Linked DNA regions of Homo sapiens. The protein of the gene in region 1 purifies or fractionates together with the protein of each later gene. This does not show direct contact. Each region holds a gene or a part of one and is shown in the gene's direction. Other genes may lie near its edges.

Region 1 (5,451 bases):
GTGAAATCATGGCTCACTGTAGCCTCGACCTATGCTCAAGCAATCCTCCTGCCTCAAGCCTCCCGAAGTAGCTGGGACAACAGGGAGTGTGCCACTGCGCTCGGCTAATTTTTGTATTGTAGTGACGAGGTTTCACCATGTTGCCTAGGTTGGTCTCTAACTCCAGGACTGAAGCCATCCTCCCATCTCAGCTTCCCGAAGTGCTGGGATTACAGGCATGAGCCACTGGGACTGCTAAATTCTTACAAACGTTTTTGCAAAATTTATATTTTTGTTTCTTTCTGAAAAAAAATGGTCTAAACTGTTGCTTAATTTGAATTCAACTCAACTGATTTAAGACTGTAACACTAGCCCTGTTGTAATTTAGCCCTCCTAAGAAAAGAAAGTTGGTGGTGGGCACAGTGGCTCACGCCTGTAATGCCAACACTTTGAGAGAACAAGGTAGGCGGATTGCTTGAGCCCAGGAGTTTGAGACCAGCCTGGCCAACATGGTGAAACCCCGCTCTACTGAAAATACAAAAATTAGCCAGGCATGGTGGTGCATGCCTGTAATCCCAGCTACTCAGGAGGCTGAGGCTGGAGAATCGCTTGAGCCTGGGAGGCAGAGGCTGCCGTGAGCGGAGATCGCGCCCCTGCACTCCAGCCTGGGCAACAGAGCGAGACTCCGTCTCAAAAAAACAAAAAGAAAAGAAAGTTGGTACAAAGGAATAGTAACAGATAAAAGTTGAAAAGGTTTGGTAGGGTTGGATTGTGTATAACTTTGGATTCCAGGCAGAGAAATTTGAATGACCTGTTATCTGTACTAAGAGTTGTTGTAGATCCTTGAGCCAGGGAGCCATAAAATGAAAACAAATTTGACAAGGATTAAGTTAATATTGTCAATCTTAGATCACAGCCCTAGTTAGGGTTGTTGAAGGATAACAGAGTGTTGAAGCGTTTATAGAATAAGATGTGCTTTCTAATCTTTCAGCCTAAATCAAGCTTTGTTAGCGCTAAAGGGACCAGCTAGCTTCCTGTTCAGTCACTCAGAGTAGCAGCCTGCAAATTTAAATGCAGAAGGAGCACCCTTTGATCACAAAAGCAGCTGCTGCCACCTTTGTTTTGTACCTGGGTTCCTGGTGAAAGTGTCAGCTGTAAAGAAGCTGCAGGCGATGGGAGGGAAATAACCTGGCAGCCTAAGGGTTAAAGGCCTCTTGGGCAAGCCTTCAAAGCCTGCCACTACCTGGCCCCAGCCTTTTTTTCTCACTGCTCCCTGGACGTTTAATTCCAGGCAGCCACCTTTATTCGTAGTTCCCTGAGTGCTTTCCTTCCCAATTCCCTTCACTAGCTCTGTGTAATCGAAGTTAGACCTGAGAGTCAAGGCCCAGCTTGAGTTCCCTACCCCTCCCCAAGGGTTTCCTGATTAACCCAGCCAGACAGCATCTCATACGTCAGAATCTTTGTAGTACGCACTTATTTCTCAACCACTCATGTATTTAGTGGACTAGTTTAGTAGCTGTTGCTGTATACATCTCCACATCCTACCCTCCCAGTTGTACCACCAGAATCTCCTGAAATTGGCATCAGTAGGTACACAATAAAAACTGCTTGAGTGAATGCAATGAGAAATGTTGAAGGAAGAATCTGTGGAATTTGAGTTCTAACTAGTTATTATAGGGCTTGAAGGAGATAGAGGACTCTAAGAAGACCCCAAGGTTTTGAACCAGAGGATGAGGAAAAGAAATACTTTGTCCAAAATTAGGACGAGAGCTGATTTTCAGAGAATGTGATTTTTGAACACGTTGAATTTGCAGGTGATGGATATAATTTTTTTCCTTTTAGTTATTTGGATTTTCCTTCATTTCAGTCTTTATTGTATTGTGTTTTTCCATGTTTGTGATTCCCTAAGAATACCTCTATTCCTTAAGTCAAAGTATTAAAGAACAGTAAAATACAGTTTAGTGAAATATCTGAGGCATTATCAGCAGAAAGGGCATTTTGAGAGCTTGATTGGAACTTAGTCCTGATTGGGATTTTTCTCTCTCCTGCTCCTTCTCATCCTCCCACCCTACCCGCTTCCCCTCACTTCCCTTTGGCTGCTAGTCCAGATTCTCAAGAGGCTTCAACTCCATCAGACAGAGATCTGTTTGTGCATTCTGTGTCAATGATCACATGAATACTCCTTTGACTTCTCAGTGCCCCCACACAAACTGGTGCCTTGCTAAGGAAAGTGTGGGTAGTTAGGAGGTGCTAGTAGGTCCATTTTTAAGAGCAAATCTTGAACGTGTTGGAAAATCTTAGACCCTCCTATAAAGGGAAATGAACTTACACTGATTTTTTCCTTGATACCAGCGAAAATACCGTTAGGAAAATTAACTCTCTGTTAGCTTTCTTCATCCCAGGAGTCCAAGTGCATAATTAATAGTATTTCCAGGTATTACGGGTGTGTTGTTGTTGTTGTTTGTTTGTTTGCTTTTGAGATGGAGTTTTGCTCTGTTGCCCAGGCTGGAGTGCAATGGTGCGATCTCTGCTGACCGTAACCTCTGCCCCCCAGGTTCAAGTGATTCTCCTGCCTCAGCCTCCCGAGTAGCTGGGATCACAAGCATGCATCACCACACACGGCTAATTTTGTATTTTTAGTAGAGATGGGGTTTCTCCATGTTGGTCAGGCAAGTCTCTAAACTTCCGACCTCAGGTGATCTGCCTGCCTTGGCCTCCCAAAGTGCTGAGATTACAGGTGTGAACCACCATGCCAACCCTGGTTATTTTTAATTTTGGATAATTTGCACCATTAAAAGAATTAATCACTTAAAGTTAGTGGCCCATGGTCCATAAACCCAGGAATTTTACTTCTTTCTCATGCCAACCCAATCTCTGTTTATATCACTGTGGTAACACAGAACTTGTTACACTGTGATTGTTTTATTTATTTATTTTAGAAGCAGGGTCCACTCTGTTGCCCCAGCTGGAGTGCAGTGTGACCTCGAAGAACTTCTGGGCTCAAGTGATCCTCTGGCCTCAGCCTCCAGAGTAGCTGAGACTACAGGCCCGTGCCACCACACCTGGCTAATTTTTTTGTAGCGAACAGGGCCTTGTTTTGTTGCCCAAGGTGGTCTCCAACTCCTGACCTCTAGCGATCCTCTAGCCTCAGCCTACTGTGATTGTTTTAAATGTCTTTCTGGGCTAGGCATGGTGGTTCATGCCTGTAATCCCAGCACTTTGGGAGGCTGAGGTGGGAGGATTGCTTGGGCCCAAGAATTCGAAACCAGCCTGTACAGTATAGTGAGACCTTGTCTCTACAAAAATCTTTAAAAATCAGCCCAGCATGGTGGTGTGCCTGTAGTCGCAGCCACTTGGGAGGCTGAGGTAGGAGAATCACTTGAACCCTGGAGGGAGAGGTTACATTGAGCCAAAGATGGCACCACTGCACTCCAGCCTGGGTGACAGAGCAAGACTCTGTCTCAAAAATGAATAAATGAATGAATGTTTGTCTTTCTGCTCCAACAGACTATGGACTTCCCCAAAACTCCCTGCCCATATTTCTATCTTAAGCCCTAACATGGTACCCTATTTATAATATTCAGTAAATGTTGAATGAAAACGAACATATGGCTTTTTTTTTTTTTTTTTTGGGAGATGAAGTCTTGCTCTGTTGCCCAGGCTGGTGTGCAGTGGCGCGATCTTGGCTCACTGCAACTTTAGCCTCCTGGGTTCAAATGACTCTTCTGCCTCAGCCTCCGAAACAGCTAGGATTACAGGCCCATGCCATCATGGACAGCTAATTTTTCTATTTTTTTTTTTTTTTAGTAGAAACAGGGTTTCATCATGTTGGCCAGGCTGGTCTCAAACTCCTAACCTCAAGTAATCCACCTGCCTCGGCCTCCCAAAGTGCAAGGATTACAGGTGTGAGCCACCATGCCTGGCCACCATCTTCCTTACTTTTTTTTACGGTCTTGTAATAGCTTTATTATCTCATTTTTCTCTAATTTTTTCTTTCTTTTCTTTTCTTTTTTTTTTGAGACAGAGTCTCACTCAGTCGCCCAGGTGGGAGTGCAGTGGCTCCGTCTCCACTCACTGCAAGCTCTGCCTCCTGGGATCACACCATTCTCCTACCTCAGCCTCCCAAGTAGCTGGGACTACAGGCGCCCGCCACCACGCCCAGCTAATATTTTTGTATTTTTTTTTAGTAGAGACAGGGTTTCACTGTGTTAACCAGGATGGTCTCAATCTCCTGACCTCGTGATCCGCCCGCCTCGGCCTCCCAAAGTGCTGGGATTACAGGCGTGAACCACCGCGCCCGGCCTCATTTTTCTCTAATTTTTTCTACTTTTATACTTTTTTTTTTTTTTTTTTTTAGATTGAGTTTCACTCTGTAGCCCAGGCTGGAGTGCAATGGCATGATCTCAGCTCATTGCAAACTCTGCCTCCCAGGTTCAGGTGATTCTCCTGCCTCAGCCTTCGGAGTAGCTAGGATTACAGGCATGCGCTACCACACCCGGCTAGTTTTTGTGTTAGTAGAGACAGGTTTTTGCCACGTTGGCCAGACTGGTCTCAAACTCCTGACCTGAGGTGATCCACCCACCTCGGCCTCCCAGAGTACTAGGATTACTGGCATGAGCCACCGTGCCCGGCCTTATAGTCACTTTTATGTTTGTGCTGCATTAATTCAAGAATTTTGTGAAAGCTATATGAAGACTAAAGGGCTTTGCCAGGAGAGTTCACCCACATACTGGGATTCAAGGAACCACATGCAAATGGCTATTTATTTGTAATTATAAAGCAGCCATTTTCATATTAATGTATGCAGAATGCCAAAGAAGCATTTTTCTTTTTTTTTCTTTGAGACGGAGTCTCGCTCTATCGCCCAGGCGTGATTTCGGCTCACTGCAACCTCTGCCTCCCAGGTTCAAGCAATTCTTCTGCCTCAGTCTCCTGAGTAGCTGGGACTACAGGCGCATGCCACTACACCCAGCTAATTTTTTAATTTTTGGTAGAGATGGGGTTTCACCATATTGGCCAGACTGGTCTCGATCTCCTGACCTCATGATCCACCCACCTCGTCCTCCCAGAGTGCTGGGATTATAGGCGTGAGCCACCACGCCCGGCCTTTACCTCAATTTTTTTAAAAAAATGAAAAAATAGAAGGTACTGAATGGGCCCTATTTGGCACTTCTTGTCTTAGAGCCTTCGTTCCAAATATAGACCCTAGCCTGACATCCACAGAGGGTTTTGATGGTATTGCTGAAGAAAAATGATTCAGTTCATTGATATCCTTTGCTATTAACAGTTGTTAGTCCCCTATGGCTTCATCTGTACAATTATTAACTCCTTCTGTGCCCATTATTGAAATTAGTTTTTAGATGGGTTGTTTCAGCAGAGTTTTCTGTACTATAGCCAGGCTGTTCCAAGAAAGTACCCTTTTCTACCTTCCCAAATGTTGCAATGCCCTTTTGTGGTTCGTAACCCAGAAAT
Region 2 (3,205 bases), about 29 Mb from region 1:
TCACTAAATTGCTATCCTCCTTTGGAGAAGCTGCTTAATCATTTAAACTCAGAAAAATTAATATCCTTTTTCTTCTGTATATGGTCACATTTGATTGCACTGTTGTGAGTATTTATTTGCTTGTTTAAATTAAAGCTCTCACTATGTTGCTTAAGCTGGTCTTGAACTCCTGGGCTCAAGCGATCCTCCTGTGTAGGCCTCCCAAAGTGCTGTGATTACAGATGTGAGCCACGGCCCCCAGCCTATAACCCTTTTTTAATCCAGAACAAATGATTAGATTAAAATGGAGTATTATTTATTTTATATACAGGGCCTTGCTTTGTCACCCAGGCTGCAGTGCAGTGATATGATCAGAGCTCACTGCACCCTCAATCTCCCAGGCTAAAGTGATCTTCCTACCTCAGCCTCCCCAGTAGCTGGGCCCACAGGTGCATTCCACCATGCCCAGCTAATTTTTGTATTTTTTTGTAAAGACAGGGTTTCACCATGTTGCCCAGGCTGGTTTTGAACACCTGGGCTCAAGTGATTCACTCGCCTCCTCCCAAAGTGCTGGGACTACAGGTGTCAGCCACCACATTCAGCCTTTTTTTCCCCCAAGAAGTGGTGCCTAACTTCACTCAGGCTGGAGTGTAGTGGCAGGATCACTGCTCACTACAGCCTTGACCTGGACTCAAATAGTCGTCCCACCTTACCTTTCTGAGTATCTGGGACCACAGGTACGTACCACCACGCTTGGCTAATTTTTTAAAATTTTTAATAGAGAGGAGGTGAGCCACTGCACCTGGCCTTAAGATAAATCGTTTTTTAAAAATGTGTATGGGCTGGGCCTGGTGGCTCACACCTGTAATCCTAGCACTTTGGGAGGCTGAAGCAGGTGGATTGCGAGGTTGAGATTGAGACCATCCTGGCTAACATGGTGAAACCCCGTCTCTACTAAAAATACAAAAATTAGCTGGGCATGGTGACGTGTGCCTGTAGTTCCAGCTACTCATGATGCTGAGGCAGGAGAATCGCTTGCACCCGGGAGGCGGAGGTTGTAGTGAGCCGAGATCTAGCCTGGTGGCAGAGCGAGACTCCGTCTCAAAAAACAAAACAAAACAAAACAAAAAAAACAGTGTATGAAGTTCTTAGGCTTCATAAGAACTTCATACTTCTTATGAAGGTATGAAGTAGGCTAAGATAAATAACTCTGAGGCTGGGCGTGGTGGCTCACGCTTGTAATCCCAGCACTTTGGGAGGCTGAGACAGGCGGACTACCTGAGGTTGGGAGTTCGAGACCAGCCTGACCAGCATGGAGAAACCCTGTCTCTACTAAAAATACAAAATTAGCCGGGCATGGTGGCACATGCCTGTAATCCCAGCTACTCGGGAGGCTGAGGCAGGAGAATCTCTTGAACCCAGGAGGCAGAGGTTGCGGTGAGCTGAGATCGCACCATTGCACTCCAGCCTGGGTAACAAGAGTGAAACTCCATCTCAGAAAAAAAAAAAAAAAAGATAAATAACTCCTGTTGCTTAAAGGCATAATTATTCATTGAATGCCATAAAGATCCTTATTTTTTTTTTGTGGTCCTGTAAGTCAAATTACAAAATGTTAAATAATAATGTCATAAATTTATGCCATTCCATATTGTGCTAAATATTTCTTCCTTAATTTATTTTACATCATTGATCTTCCATCAAGAGAACATGAAAGTCTTTGCCACATATTGGGTGACTTTCAAAGAGAATAAAACACTATTTCCCTTGCCTTTTCATACTAGGGCAGTATCTCCTCTAGCTAGTGCCCATACAGAAAATTCTATCACCATACAAAATTTAATGCAGTATTTATGTTTTAAAGCACAGGTGTACCGAAAACTGTGAAAAGTCTGAATTTATGGGTTCTATGCATGCATTTTTGCCTAACCTAGAGAAAGAGTTTGATAAATTTTTACCAGCTTTGAAGATGGATTAACTTTTGACTTTGAGCTTTAAACTTTTAAGTCAGACATTTCAGGACTAATTTGATTTTGTAGATATCATTGTAAGAACTTTATTTGAAAGACTGAATAAAGGGATTTGATTTGTTTTCATCATTTAAGCACAGTCTTGTGATGATGAGAACATAAGTGTGATTCTTTTCTGTATTTTGAGGTCCCTAATCCAAAGCCCATTTTGCTAGGATTTTTTCTGCTATCAGATGTGTTTTCACTCTAAACCTAGTCTTTTATGACATGAATTGATTACTTCCTGTTAATTTTCTATCCTCCCTTACTATCCTCCTTTTTTGTTTTCAGTATTCAGTATTTCAGTATTCTAGAGTAGATTTTGATATAAAAGAAAATAATTCTTACATCATCTTTTGCAACAAATTTTGTTTTCTGAATTGATAATAAATTTAAAAAGTTGATTCCTATTTTCACATATGTTCATATGCCCCTATGTTTGGGGGTATCACTCAGTTTTCCCTTTTTTGTGTAAAGATGTTTTGTAAAACAAAATTGTCTCAAAGTGATTATATTATATATATAAAAAGTAACAGATTTTAACAAAGGTTAAAAGATTCTTGGGGTAACAGATTCTTCTGGGGCTTGGAAATCTTCCATTTCTCTTGAGGGTTTTTTTTAATGAGTGTTAAATATGTTAAAATTTTTATTTCTACCTCATGTGTTTTTTTAAATTATTACTTGAAGTTTTTTATTTAATAAATTTTTTCTACTAATGGATCTTAACTGTGTCAATTATTATTAATACTGAATAATAATTAAACTCAGGGTTATCTAGCATGTTTTGTTTTTTTTTTTTTTGAGACGGAGTCGCCCAGGCTGGAGTGCAGTGGTGCGATCTTGGCTCACTGCAAGCTCTGCCTCCCGGGTTCACGCCATTCTCCTACCTCAGCCTCCCGAGTAGCTGGGACTACAGGTGCCCGCCACCACGCCTAGCTAATTTTTTTTTTTGTATTTTTAGTAGAGACGGGGTTTCACCATGTTAGCCAGGATGGTCTCCATCTCCTGACCTCGTGATCCACCCACCTCGGCCTCCCAAAGTGCTGGGATTACAGGCGTGAGCCACCGCGCCCGGCCGCATGTTTTCTGATAGTGACAAGTGAAGTATTGATCATGCTAGAAAGCTGAAACCAAGCAGCATTGATATTATAAAGAGATTTATGAAGGGCACACAGGATGGGCTTGATCATGGAGAGGGGTTATAGATTAGATAGGACAAA
Region 3 (3,500 bases), on another chromosome or scaffold:
GCATGAGCCACTGTGCCCGGCCGGATACAGCTGTTGAGTTTAACATTTGTGGGGTGGGTTGTTTTGTTGTTGAGATGGAGTCTCACTCTGTTGCCCAGGCTGTAGCACAGTGGCACAATCTCAGCTCACTGCAACCTTCACCTTGCAGATTTAAGCAATTTTCCTGCCTCAGCCTCCAGAGTAGCTAGGATTACAGATGTGCACCACCATGCCCTGCTGATTTTTCTATTTTTAGTAGAGATGGGGTTTCACCATGTTGGCCAGGCTGGTCTCGATCTCCTGACCTCACGTGATCCACCCACCTCTGCCTCCCAAAGTGCTGGGAGTACAGGCATGAGCCACCACGCCCAGTCAACATTTATATTTCAAGAAATGTTAATAACTACTTTCTGAATATTTGTAAGACACCCTTGTGGTAATACATACTTAAAACTAAATTGTTCATTGATGTTCCCTAAATGAGTCTGTTCCTTAATGACCCATCACCAATTCATGATGAACTTCAACAAAGCTTCCAAAAGTCTCACAATTCACTTCAGCGTTGGGAGCACTTGAAGAAAGTAGCCAGCAGATATCAGGTATATGCCACTGAAATCTGTATTACAGATATAATAATGCAATTCTTAATTAAATTGATTGCTTTGCCTAGTCAGTTAAAGATGGTTGAAGATCGTTTTTTTAACTTTCTTTAAAGAAATCTTCAACAGTTCCTACTGATCCTCATGTTGGCCTTGTATCTGCTTTTAGAATAACATCAAAAATGACAAATATGGACCCTGGCTGGAGTGGGAGATTATGCTCCAGTACTGTTTTCCACGGCTGGATATCAATGTCAGCAAAGGAATCAATCATCTACTGAAGAGCCCTTTTAGTGTTCATCCTAAAACAGGTACTACACAAGGAAACTAAGGAAAACTAAAAGAAAAATGAGTTGCTATTGGCTTTAGTAAGCATGGCATTAGGTCTGAATATATATAATGTCTATGATTTAAAGGTAGAAGAATTGCTCTGTCACCCAATACCTAAGTCAGTTAAGTAGCTACCAGATGAGTTTCTACTATGTAACTGTTTTTCAGTTGGGTTTCTGAGGTTCCATATTAGATTTGGAGAGGACCATCAAAATCTTAGGACAACAGCTCTCATTGTACAGATGAGAAAACAGTGGCCCAAGATGTAACCCATCCAAGGTCATAAAAAAAAAATTGTGTGTGACTGTATGTGGTAGCTTGCTCCTGTAATCCCAGCACTTGAGGAGGGCAAGGTGGGCAAATCACTTGAGCCCCAGAGTCTAACACCAGCCTAGGCCACATGTCTAAACACCCTTTGTACAAAAAATACAAAAATTAGCTAGACGTGGTGGTGCATGCCTGTAGTTCCAGCTACTCAAGAGGCTGAGGCAGGAGGATCACTTGAGCCTGGGAAGTTGAGGCTGCAGTGAGCTGTGATGGTGCCACTGCACTCCAGCCTGGGCAACAGAGTGAGACCCTGTCTCAAAAAAAAGAAAAAAAGAAAGAAATGAAATGAACTCTACTCCTAGCACTGACAAAAACAAAAAAAAATTTTTTTCGAGAAAGAGTCTCACTCTGTCACCCAGGCTGGAGTGCACTGGTGCAATCTCGGCTCACCGATCGGCTCAAGCGATCCTTCTGCCTCACCCTCCTGAGTAGCTGGTACTACAGGCATGTGCTACCACAGCCAGCTAATATTTTGTAGACAGGGTTTTGCCATGTTGCCCAGGTTGGTCTTGAACTCTTGAGCTCAAGCAATTCACCTGCCCCAGTCTCCCAAAGTGCTGGGATTACAGACAAGAGCCACTGCGCCCAGCCTCATTACGTCACTTTTGAGATGTGTTAAATTCTATATGGTATCCTAGGGGGGTATTATAAAAGAGTAGAGGAATTTCTATTTTATTTCCTAAATGCTTTTTAAAGGTGTCTGACATGTGGGTATCTGTATTGATCTCAAATAAACCAAGCCAATGTAAATATTATAGTTTCATCTATTTTGTTCTATTTTCAGGACTCACTAACTCTGAGATTGTTCTGAACTTAAATATGGAATATTTAAATATACTTTATTTCTAAATATAGAAATAAAAGTAGGGATAAGAGCAACTGGGAAATAGCTCAACAGTCTTCACATTTGCTTATTGGTTTTTGTTTTTGTTTTTTTTCTTTCCTTTTTTTTCGAGACAGAGTCCCACTCTGTCACCCAGGCTGGAGTACAGTGGCGCGATCTTGGCTCACTGCAGCCTCTGCCTTCCAGGTTCAAGCAATTCTCTGCCTCACCCTCCCAAGTAGCTGGGATTACAGGTACCCGCCACCACACCCAGCTAATTTTTGTATTTTTAGTAGAGACGGGGTTTCACCATCTTGGCCAGGCTGGTCTTGAACTCCTGACCTTGTGATCCACCCTCCTCAGCCTCCCAGAGTGCTGGGATTACAGGCGTGAGCCACTGCACCTGGCTGGTTTTTTAAAGAGAAATAAAAGGCATGCTGGACATGGTCATTCACACCTGTAATCCCAGCAACTCAGGAGGCTGAGGCAAGAGGATTGTTTGAGGCCAGGAGTTCTGGGCAACATAGTGAGACCCCAACTCAACAAAAATTGAAAAACTGGCCAGGCCAGGAGCAGTAGCTCACGTCTATAATCCTAGCACTTTGGGAGACAACTGAGGTGGGAGGATCACTTGAGCCCAGGACATCAAGCCTGCAGTGAGCTATGACCATGCTACTGTATGTACTCTAGCATGGGTGACAAAGTGAGGCATTAACTCTAAAAAAGAGTAAGGGCACAGCTAATGTGAAAGTAATTTATATTTCTAAATACTCTTCTTAACAGATAAGTTTAACCCTTTGTCTAAGCCTTAAATAAAAATTTTAACCAAAAATAACCTGTAGGAGATGACTATAATGATTTATAGTCCACAATCATCAGTTTATAACTTTTGTGTCTTACAGGTCGCATATCTGTGCCTATTGATTTGCAGAAAGTGGACCAGTTTGATCCATTTACTGTTCCGACCATAAGGTATGTTTCAGATCATTGATCACTCCTTGTTTGTAATTGTTGTTATGAATTTTAAATAAATTGAATTAGCCTCCTTAGAGAAGTAGTTGCATGGGAATGGTATATTTGGTTATGGAAACCAAATAAGGTTCAAAGGTTAGATGACGATGCCCTAATAGAACAATACAAGATTTTCACCTGCTGTTATGTAAGAAAAAGATTTTAAGGTCAAGTAAATTTAGGAAATTCTGACTTAAACAGATTAAAAGTATCTTTTACTACAGTATTTCACAGTCTTTCATATGATAATATGCATGAAAAACTCCAAGAAGAGATCATGGTGTTTAGAATATCCCAAATTTAGCTGGCCGCATAATTTTTTTACAGTAAATTTTATGGGATTCACATGCTATTATACACTGGATAATGCTGATCAGAAACCAACATTAAACTTCTCTTGTTCGTGGTGAGGCGCGGTGGCTCATGCCTGT
Region 4 (3,500 bases), on another chromosome or scaffold:
GTGAATAAGGCTGGTAGTGTTAATGTAGGGGTGGAGTAAAGACCTAGATGAGAGGGTTTGTTTCTAAAGTGCTGAGTTTCCCGAAAGGTAGGAGGAAAGTTTCTCTAACTGTGTAGAGGATGGTCTTGTGTCTGTGTTGACTGATTCTCTTGTAGACCGAGATTTTAGATGAAGATAAGCGCTTAGGCAGTGCAGTGGATTACTACTTTATTCAAGATGACGGAAGCAGATTTAAGGTAAGCCCCTGACTGCGACAAGCTAAAACCCACTTTTATGGGTGTTCATGTAGCTCTGTGACTGTCAGGGAGGGCATGGGAGGCTTCCAGTGCACAGCAGCCCATAGCCCAGCAGAACTCGGGCCCCTGGAGGCCCCATCAGTCATCACGTAAGATGTCCTGAGAGAGGTCAGTTCAGGAAGACTCTGAATGGTGAGAAGTAGCGTGTCTTTCAGATTCTTGCCCCTGTGAAAAGTGCGCATTCTGACTTCCTGTATGCTACCAAGGTCAAGGCTACCCTGGCCCTAGGCTGTTCATGGGATATAGGAGCAAGCAATGTGTTTTCACTTTTCTCTCGCTTTCTTCTTTCTCATCACCCCTGGATGGGTTGGTGACTCTTAACAGGTGGCTTTGCCCTATAAACCGTATTTCTACATTGCGACCAGAAAGGTGAGTGTGTTTCATAGACTCAGGTCAGACGACCTGTGTGTCATTCTGTGGTGGGCTTTGCAACTGGGAAATAGGCAAGGAAGGAAATGTATTTTACCAATGGAAAGCCTTTTCATTCTGATCCTGATTAGGGTTGTGAGCGAGAAGTTTCATCTTTTCTCTCCAAGAAGTTTCAGGGCAAAATTGCAAAAGTGGAGACTGTCCCCAAAGAGGATCTGGACTTGGTGAGTATCACCCAGACTTTCCAGGGGTAAATGAGGCCAGAGTCTACATTGTTCCTGGCAGGTGGGATCGGAAGAGGTAGAAATTCAGGTCATCTGTTGGGTGATGGGGCGGTGTGGTGACCGTCTATAAAATTCCTTCCAAAGAGCTCTAGTGGTGTTAGTTGGTGCCACGTGCAGAGTTGGACAAGGTGCCTTGAAGTCGCCAACTCTTTGACTTGTGTGTTTACCTTTGAGTGTTTACCCTCTCACCCATAAAGTCCTATTTCTCTTGAACCAATGAGCGTGATCTCTTCGCATTATAGCCAAATCACTTGGTGGGTTTGAAGCGAAATTACATCAGGCTGTCCTTCCACACTGTGGAGGATCTTGTCAAAGTGAGGAAGGAGATCTCCCCTGCCGTGAAGAAGAACAGGGAGCAGGATCACGCCAGCGACGCGTACACAGCTCTGCTTTCCAGGTAAACTTTGGTCTTGTGAGCAAAGCATCAGCGGTTCAGAACGACAAGATGGATAGGAGACAGGAACACGTAGCAACAAAGTTACCTTAATGGCTGGCTCTGTTTGATACGGAAAACTTGAGCAATTAGGTAGAGATTTCTGTATGTTCTGTGTTAAATAAACAGTGGCTTCCCAGGTTATATTTTATGTGTTAGCTCTCTTTTCCAATGGAGGGGTGGGTTTATGGCTCTAAAATTGAGTGGTTGTAATAGTAAAGTCACCTTAGAGGGGAAAAGATCCCTCATCCTACTGCCCTAACACAATCCATCTATGAATTTCATTAAGTGCTGAGATTTACACAGCACATCTCCAGAGAACCTTGGGTATCGTCCACAGAAATTTAAGCCTAGAACACTAAACACTGTTCTTCAAGTATTTGAGCATCAACAATAATAGGATGCAAAGTAACCAGTTAGGAAGAGAAAATCTTGAGTAATGAAGTTTAGATGACTTCGGAAGAACCTACCTTACCCTCTGACAAAAGAGGATCAGTTTGGGATGCTGAACATTTCTACAGTCCCTACCCGGAGTCCGCCTTCCCTGGCAATGCCACAAGTTGCTTTTTGAAATATTGGAAGGTGTGATCAGAGACTGAGTCCTCAGAGACTTGAGCCATATCTGAGACTCGTCTGTCTTTTTCCCCCTGAATAGCCCGTTCAGTATTTGAGCTTATAGGCCAATAGTGGCCGCAATGGTGGGCCACTTCTTTAGACATGGCAGAGACCCATGCACAGGCTGTGTGAAGCCCAGGCCTGCTCTTCAGCCTGCATGAGGCAGCCTCCTGAGTATCAGGACCATGGTGGGATGGTCATGCCTGGCTCTCCTGACTGGCAGCACTTAATGTTTTCTTTCTTTTTTCTTCTATTTACTTATTTGTTTTGAGACAGGGTCTTGCTCTGTTGCCCAGGCTGGAGTGCAGTGGTGCAATCATAGCTCACTGTGGCCTCGAACTCCTGGGCTCAAGCGATCCTTTCACCTCAGCCTCCTGAGTAACTGGGATCACAGGTGTGTACCCCATGCCTGGCTAATTATTATTATTATTATTATTACTTTTGTAGAGATGAGTCTCCCTATGTTGCCCAGGCCTGTCTTGAACTCCTGGGCCGAAGCGATCCTCCTGCCTCCCAGAGTGCTGGGATTAGAGGCATAAGCCACCATGCTTGGCCCTCTTTTTTTTTTTCTAGTTGGGGTGTAACTCACATCATATAAAATGAATACATCTTACACTGAATTTTCTCCTGTCTGTAGAGTTATCATCCAAGCTATTCTTTATTTTTTTGAGATGGAGTCTCGCTCTGTTGCCCAGGCTGGAGTGCAGTGGCGCAATCTGGGTTCACTGCAACCTCCGCCTCCTGGGTTCAAGTGATTCTCCTGCCTCAGCCTCCCAGGTATCTGGGGTTACAGACATGCGCCACCACGCCTGGCTAATTTTTGTATTTTTAGTAGAGATGAGGTTTCGTCGTGTTGGCCAGGCTCGTCTCGAACTCCTGACCTCGGGTGATCCGCCTTCCTTGGCCTCCCAAAGTGCTGGGATTACAGGCGTGAGCTGCCACGCCTGGCCCAGTCCAAGCCATTCTTAAAGGAAGGACTGCCTTGGTCGTTGAAACCACATCAATTTACCTTTTGTGTTTCCTCGGTTTGAACTCTGGTCTCACCTCTTCCTACTGAGTTGGAACTCTGGTCTCACCTCCTCCAGACCCTGGCAGCTGAGTTAGTTGCTCTCTTGTTAATTCCTAGTGTTCTGCAGAGGGGCGGTGTCATTACTGATGAAGAGGAAACCTCTAAGAAGATAGCTGACCAGTTGGACAACATTGTGGACATGCGCGAGTACGATGTTCCCTACCACATCCGCCTCTCCATTGACCTGAAGATCCACGTGGTGAGTGGGGCAGGGTTGGGTCGCTGCTCACATGAATTTCCTAACAGCCAGGAGATGATCATTATGGGTGAATCCACAGAAGAATAGACTTTCCTGGATGTAGAACTCTAGTTAGCACACTGTGTGTTTTGCAGGCTCATTGGTACAATGTCAGATACCGAGGAAATGCTTTTCCGGTAGAAATCACCCGCCGAGATGACCTTGTTGAACGACCTGTAAGTTTTGCTTGTGTTAC

The links. Proteins that work in one complex are often made in the same cells at the same time.
Region 2: the proteins of MMS19 (region 1) and DNA2 purify together in Homo sapiens (affinity purification with mass spectrometry; 4 studies listed by BioGRID and IntAct, with this or other methods). This does not show direct contact.
Region 3: the proteins of MMS19 (region 1) and PRIM1 purify together in Homo sapiens (affinity purification with western blotting; 3 studies listed by BioGRID and IntAct, with this or other methods). This does not show direct contact.
Region 4: the proteins of MMS19 (region 1) and POLE purify together in Homo sapiens (affinity purification with western blotting; 3 studies listed by BioGRID and IntAct, with this or other methods). This does not show direct contact.

The regions. Positions count from the first base shown.
Region 1 is NC_000010.11:97,491,020-97,496,470, reverse strand, and holds part of MMS19 (MMS19 nucleotide excision repair protein homolog), read left to right. Parts: intron 1-5,451. UniProt on the Homo sapiens protein: Key component of the cytosolic iron-sulfur protein assembly (CIA) complex, a multiprotein complex that mediates the incorporation of iron-sulfur cluster into apoproteins specifically involved in DNA metabolism and genomic integrity.
Region 2 is NC_000010.11:68,413,564-68,416,768, reverse strand, and holds the end of DNA2 (DNA replication ATP-dependent helicase/nuclease DNA2), read left to right. Parts: coding exon 1-60; intron 61-1,661; coding exon 1,662-1,730; 3' UTR 1,731-2,705; downstream 2,706-3,205. UniProt on the Homo sapiens protein: Key enzyme involved in DNA replication and DNA repair in nucleus and mitochondrion.
Region 3 is NC_000012.12:56,738,824-56,742,323, reverse strand, and holds part of PRIM1 (DNA primase small subunit), read left to right. Parts: intron 1-486; coding exon 487-578; intron 579-747; coding exon 748-889; intron 890-2,960; coding exon 2,961-3,030; intron 3,031-3,500. UniProt on the Homo sapiens protein: Catalytic subunit of the DNA primase complex and component of the DNA polymerase alpha complex (also known as the alpha DNA polymerase-primase complex - primosome/replisome) which play an essential role in the initiation of DNA synthesis.
Region 4 is NC_000012.12:132,677,343-132,680,842, reverse strand, and holds part of POLE (DNA polymerase epsilon catalytic subunit A), read left to right. Parts: intron 1-155; coding exon 156-236; intron 237-620; coding exon 621-665; intron 666-796; coding exon 797-889; intron 890-1,191; coding exon 1,192-1,346; intron 1,347-3,123; coding exon 3,124-3,265; intron 3,266-3,399; coding exon 3,400-3,480; intron 3,481-3,500. UniProt on the Homo sapiens protein: Catalytic component of the DNA polymerase epsilon complex. Participates in chromosomal DNA replication.